Regions from separate parts of the Homo sapiens genome. Here region 2 is linked to region 1. Evidence: fine-mapped QTL for protein levels in blood plasma. Region 1 holds a variant in brackets. A gene starts in the other region. All regions are shown on their forward strands.

Region 1 (2,899 bases):
GAGGTTGTGGTGAGCCGAGATCGCGTCATTGTACTGCAGCCTGGGGAACAAGAGTGAAATTCCGTCTCAAAAAAAACAAACAAAGAAAAACAAAAGAAAAGAAAAGAAAAAGAAATGGGATAACTGGGAATGAGACTGGCTTCGGAGTGACCTTAGGGGGTTGAGTTTTTGATGTTGGAGAGAGGGTGTGGCATAGACCAGACAGAGGGAGGACAAAGAGGAAACTAGGATCAGGCTGAGCACCAAACTGGAAGTCTAGATTTTGGAGTCACCTAGTCCTGATTGTCTGGTCTGAACTCCCAGACTTTCCCTAAGGAACTTGCAGGGGTGCAGGGTTGGGTTGTGCTGGGTGGAGGCCGGCAGAGCACAGGGTGAGAAATCCGAGTCTCTGCTGCCCTCTCATGGTGGCTAGGGGTCCTGCAGGTGGTTCCCCAGAGCTACCAGCCAGGTGCGCTTCCTCCCGGCCCATGCTCTGGCCTCAGGCTAGGGTGTGTGTGCTGGGTGGAGGATAGGGATGATGGTGGGGGGGGATGATATCAAAGGAGAAGCAGAGAACAGTTGGAGGGTGACAGGAACCAAGTTTAAGGGAGTGTTGGCGATACCCATGCCTTAAGTTTCCTTGTCTTTCAGGCGTAGGTTCCTTTCTCCTGTACTCTGTGCATGAGGGAATCAGGGGAATTCCCCTGGATCCCAATGACAAGTCAGATGCCCTGGTCCCAGTGTCCGGGACCTCGCTGGCTGTCGGCATCGACTTCCACGCTGGTGAGCCATTTGGTGGCAGAGGGAGTTGGGCGTGGCGTAGGAGCTTTAGGGGTGGTGTGGTGTGCCCTGAGGGTCCAGTGAGAGGCTGCCTGAATTGGCCTGAGGTGGGGCACTTGCTACAGCTGCCACCCTGACTCCACCTCCCCTTCAAGCACCTGGCCCCTCCGGCACTCTCTCACCTCTGTCTTGAGCCTTGTGAGATTTTGACCCCTCACCTTACCCCTGCCTTATTGGGCATCCCCATGTCACCTCCTCCACCTCCAGAAAATGACACCATCTACTGGGTGGACATGGGCCTGAGCACGATCAGCCGGGCCAAGCGGGACCAGACGTGGCGTGAAGACGTGGTGACCAATGGCATTGGCCGTGTGGAGGGCATTGCAGTGGACTGGATCGCAGGTGAGCAGTGGGCAGGTTTGTGGGGCTTGGGGTGTGGCAGAGGACTGGGGGACGAAGTGAGAGGAGGAGTTGGCGGGAGCAGGAAGAGGAGCTGTAGGGGTGCCTGGGAGCTTGGAGACACCAGGTCCACCTGTCCTCACCTAACCTCCCTGAGCCCCACCAACTCCCTCCTTAGGCAACATCTACTGGACAGACCAGGGCTTTGATGTCATCGAGGTCGCC[C/T]GGCTCAATGGCTCCTTCCGCTACGTGGTGATCTCCCAGGGTCTAGACAAGCCCCGGGCCATCACCGTCCACCCGGAGAAAGGGTGAGGAGCTGGAAAGACTGGCCTTGTCATTCTGCCCATGGCCCATGCTGATGAGGCCCTGTCTCCTCCAGGGTCTGAGGACTGACCCCCACTTCCACCCCCACCCTACAGGTACTTGTTCTGGACTGAGTGGGGTCAGTATCCGCGTATTGAGCGGTCTCGGCTAGATGGCACGGAGCGTGTGGTGCTGGTCAACGTCAGCATCAGCTGGCCCAACGGCATCTCAGTGGACTACCAGGTTCGCACGCCAACTTGGCCTTGGATCCGATGGTAGACCCCTGACCCAGGCTCCTGTTCCCTGTGATGAGCCCATTCTGGGAGGACTTGGAGCCCAGGGGAAGTCACAGGGTCTCCCAGCCCAGCCCTCCACCCAGAGTAGGACTCCTGCTACCACAGAGATGATGGGCAGGGGTCGCTCAGAAGTGGGGAGTGGGGGAGTGGAGAGATGCCTGGAGGTCACCTTATCAGCAGGGCAGTGGGCAGGAGTGTATGCAGGAGGCAGGAGTGAGTTAGGGGAGGCTGAACTGAGGGCCTCACTCTGGCCCAGGCACTCCCTGCTGCCCCAGACATGGGGCTGGCAGCGAGCTCAGCCCTGGAGGTGAGGTGGGTGCCTCTGGCCTGTAGGATGGGAAGCTGTACTGGTGCGATGCACGGACAGACAAGATTGAACGGATCGACCTGGAGACAGGTGAGAACCGCGAGGTGGTTCTGTCCAGCAACAACATGGACATGTTTTCAGTGTCTGTGTTTGAGGATTTCATCTACTGGAGTGACAGGTGAGGGCTTCTGTCCTGGCCTCCTCAGCTGATCTCTTCCTTCCCTCCTGCCTCCACTGATGCCCTGCTTGTGCCCTGTCCTTCCCTCAGGACTCATGCCAACGGCTCTATCAAGCGCGGGAGCAAAGACAATGCCACAGACTCCGTGCCCCTGCGAACCGGCATCGGCGTCCAGCTTAAAGACATCAAAGTCTTCAACCGGGACCGGCAGAAAGGTGAGGCTGGGGCTCTGGGCTGGGGTGGAGAGGTGAGGGGGACTCTGGCCTGGGAGAGTGCTCCCCAGGGAACCCAGTGTGAGAGGGCTGGGAGACAAGTTAGACCCATGGGGCAACTTCCGATGGCCCGAGAGACCCAGGGATGGGGAGGAAAGGCTGAGGTGCTCTGGGACAGATCTTGGCATTGGACTCTGGGCCCTGGAGGGTCATTCAAGCTGGGAATACCGAGGCAGAGGGCAGAGCTTTCGCCAAAGCCTGGATGACAAAGGCACCAGTGAGCCTTTCCCAAGGCAGGCCCTGCCCTCTGTACCCTCCCCTCCCCCAGGCACCAACGTGTGCGCGGTGGCCAATGGCGGGTGCCAGCAGCTGTGCCTGTACCGGGGCCGTGGGCAGCGGGCCTGCGCCTGTGCCCACGGGATGCTGGCTGAAGACGGAGCATCGT
Region 2 (2,899 bases), not on the chromosome of region 1:
CGGATACTTATGTACACTTACATACGAAAATGGATGTTTAAATGCAGGTAGATGAGTATTTGTCCTAAAATGTGATCTTCCTTGTTGATGCTGGAGCTTGAGGAGCTATCCCTATGCTCTGCTGCCACCTTGGAAACTCAGAAGGATTTACAACGGAGTTCTGCACAGGGGAAGCTGGAAGCAGCATTCCCACAGCCTCTTCTGGGGCTGGCAAGGCTCAGAGAGGCATTTGAAATGGCTATTATTGACACCCATAGACTTGGGTATGTTTCAGAGAGAAACTATAACATCTATCTCATGGGAAAACACACTTTCTCTGTTTTTAAATAACTCCGTTTCAGCAAGATCCATGTGTGTAGCCTCTGAATACTCTATAAAGGCTCCGTATTTCTTTCTTTCTTTCCTTAGTCCGGAATGGAGACAGAAGAAAGATTCGGTTGAAGATGTCCCTGTGTGGATCTCAGTTTGCGCTCTGAGCGACGTCCTGGCTCATTTGGGTGTGACGGTGAGAGCAGAGGCGCTCTGCTGACAGTTTTTTCTTGTCTAAGCTTCCATTCCGCATCCACAATATGACTCGCCTTCCACTCCAGTTAACTTCTTGGAAGTCCAGAGCACTTAGTCAAAGCTGTTTACAAAATGCAAAGCATCTGGGCGGCCAAGGCAGAGGCTCCTGTGTTCTCTATGTAACCGCCTCCAAAAAAGCTGGGAAATTTCGCGGATCAAAATGTAGGCGCTTAAAGCTGACCCTCTGCTGTCAATGTTGGGACTTAGATACATTTTTTGCATCGTCATTCTTGTGTGTGTTTCCCGTTTATTCCATTCTAAGGCTCAGGCTCGCGCTGTTTCTCTCGCGCGCGCTGTCCCCTCTCTCCATTTCCCATTCACACATCAAACTCCGTCCTCCGCACCCCTATCTTCCCGTGTCTTCTTAGTTATGTGAATGTGTGTCATTAGGCTTACTCGGACACTGGATGGGTGAGTGGGAGGCAGCTTTTCTTGCGGTTTCATTTACACTTGGCATGGGTGGGTGGGTGCCCTCCACAATTCGTCTCGCACACGGAACACAGTTAAAATCTGTAGCTAGAACGAGTGAAAAGTTCCGAATCTTTAAAGCGCAGCTAGGACAGGAAATAATACAGGGTTGGGGGATGTGGACGGGGGCGGAGAGCAGAGAAGTAAAGGAATAAAACCAACTTCGCTGGCAACTTCAATAAATCCGGTAACTGGAGGCAAAAAATAGACTCCGAGGGCTGGGTCTGGTCCGGATGAAACGCTAGGGCTCCTTCCCTTCCTTGAATCTTGGGCGCTGGAAGCCAGCCACGGGCGTCTTGCCACGCGAGTGCCCCTAGACAGCAACACACCCACTGGAAACGCACGTGAACAAAGCTCTCGCCCCCGGGAGCCGCTGCCTGCGGTTTCCTAGTCGATCCCAGCTTCTCTAGGGAGTGTCAGGCGCACACAGGGTTAAGTTAGTTCCCTCCCTGGTAGGAGGGAGAGGAGGAGGAGGGGAAAAGCAGCATACTGTCTCAGGCTGGGTACCTTGTAGTTAGTTGTACGTTCGAAACCTGTCGCCGTCACTTGCGCGTTTGGCATTATCCATTGTCACCGCGGAGGAACGAGCGCTCGAGATATCATCAGTGCCCGCAAATCTCCGCGCCAAGGCGCTGAGCTACTCCTTTCCGAGGTGCGCCTCTGGTCCTCCGTCCCTGGTGCCCAGCAGCGGCGAGGCGGCATCTCCGCTCCCGCCGCCGTGTCCACCGAGCCCTGGGATCAGGGTGGCAGTTCTCAACGATGGGCAGGAGGGACCTCGGCGGCGACCCCTAAAACAATACCATGCCCCGGGATCCCCGCTGCTGCCGCGCCAGCGTCTTCCCTTTCCACCTCCCTGACCCTGTCGGATTCGGATGAGCCCATTGCAAGGAGAAGACGCAGCCGTCAGGTAAAAGGGGCTGCGTTGCCAGGTGAAGTTTCCAGTAACCGGCCGAGCTGCTGCTACGCTGGCACCACGCTGTCTCTTCGGGGGATTTTTTTTTTTTGAAAGAGCTGGGGGTGGTCATCTTAAGTGGGGTGCTCTAGGCTTTGTCTTTCACCTGGAGAGAAAATAGGCAGCTTAGCTCTCTCTCGACTTTGGGGACATCTGTCTGCTGGTCGAATCCACCTCCTCTACGGAGCATCATGACTGAGTTCTGGGTCAAAACGCAAATTTTCTTGCCTGGTAGATGCATCGATGCTAAATTGGGGTTCTCAGTGCCCCTAACCTTGTCAGAGTTCAGTCTCCTACTTCCCTAGATTGAATCTCTTAACTTTCACCAGTAACAACCCTCTCCCCTCCACAAGCTGTTGTTAATGTCACCAGCGTTATTATCAGGCTGTTGTATCTAAAGACACCAACCTACTACCTGCCCGTAATCTGGGATCTATTAGCAGTTAAACAGATGCGGTGGATACTAATTCCTTTTCCTTCCAGTTGGTGGGGGCGGGTGGGGCTTTTTCCAAAACCAAGTCCCTTCCAGCCCTGCTTGTCCTCTTCGGGCTGGCGGGCACTGAGCTGGGGCCATCACGCCTTTCTAGAGCGCCTGCGGAGGTGGCGAAGGCTTGGAGAGCATACGAGGCGGAATCCGGATCGAGTGAGTTCCTTGAGCCGCTTGCGTGGGACGCAGGGAGAGGGCGAATAACGCCCTCAGGCGCTGAATGCAGGGGCAAGGAGCCAGCGAGGGTGGCTGGAGCAGGCCTTGCCAGCTGTTACCAAGTCTCTCCACAGGCTTGGGGGCTTGGGGCCTCCTGGAAAGATCCCTCCGCCGCGCTGACCAGTACGGGGCTCGCTCCCGCACTTTGAAGGCTGCCGCGGTCTTTCGTCATTTATAATCAAGCCCAAGATCAAGGTTGCAAGCTGAGGTCG

Alleles and levels. Positions count from the first base shown, and alleles are read on the strand shown. Strength reflects both the effect of a copy and how common the allele is.
With allele T in place of C in region 1, the plasma level of the protein whose gene starts at base 1,549 in region 2 is higher (weak association).

The links. PIP is the chance, under the fine-mapping model, that this variant and not a neighbour inherited with it causes the effect. The UK Biobank Pharma Proteomics Project read protein levels with antibody pairs (Olink). The fine-mapping took linkage between variants from a reference panel, not from the people measured, so its PIPs are less certain.
Region 2: FLRT2 starts here. The variant in region 1 is fine-mapped to the plasma level of the FLRT2 protein (UK Biobank, PIP 0.93).

What each region holds. Positions count from the first base shown.
Region 1 is chr12:57,182,749-57,185,647 of GRCh38, forward strand. It overlaps LRP1 (LDL receptor related protein 1), which reads left to right. Exons shown (of 89, transcript NM_002332.3): 35 at 631-762; 36 at 1,027-1,161; 37 at 1,337-1,466; 38 at 1,578-1,704; 39 at 2,091-2,242; 40 at 2,333-2,457; 41 at 2,783-2,899. Among named protein-coding and RNA genes, the nearest start is that of MIR1228, 10 kb to the right of the region's middle. RefSeq lists a silencer at 314-363. The variant C/T (reference allele first, on the strand shown) is at 1,384.
Region 2 is chr14:85,528,596-85,531,494 of GRCh38, forward strand. FLRT2 (fibronectin leucine rich transmembrane protein 2) reads left to right here and starts at 1,549. Exons shown (of 2, transcript NM_013231.6): 1 at 1,549-1,939. FLRT2-AS1 (FLRT2 antisense RNA 1) reads right to left here. Exons shown (of 2, transcript NR_184170.1): 1 at 22-2,899.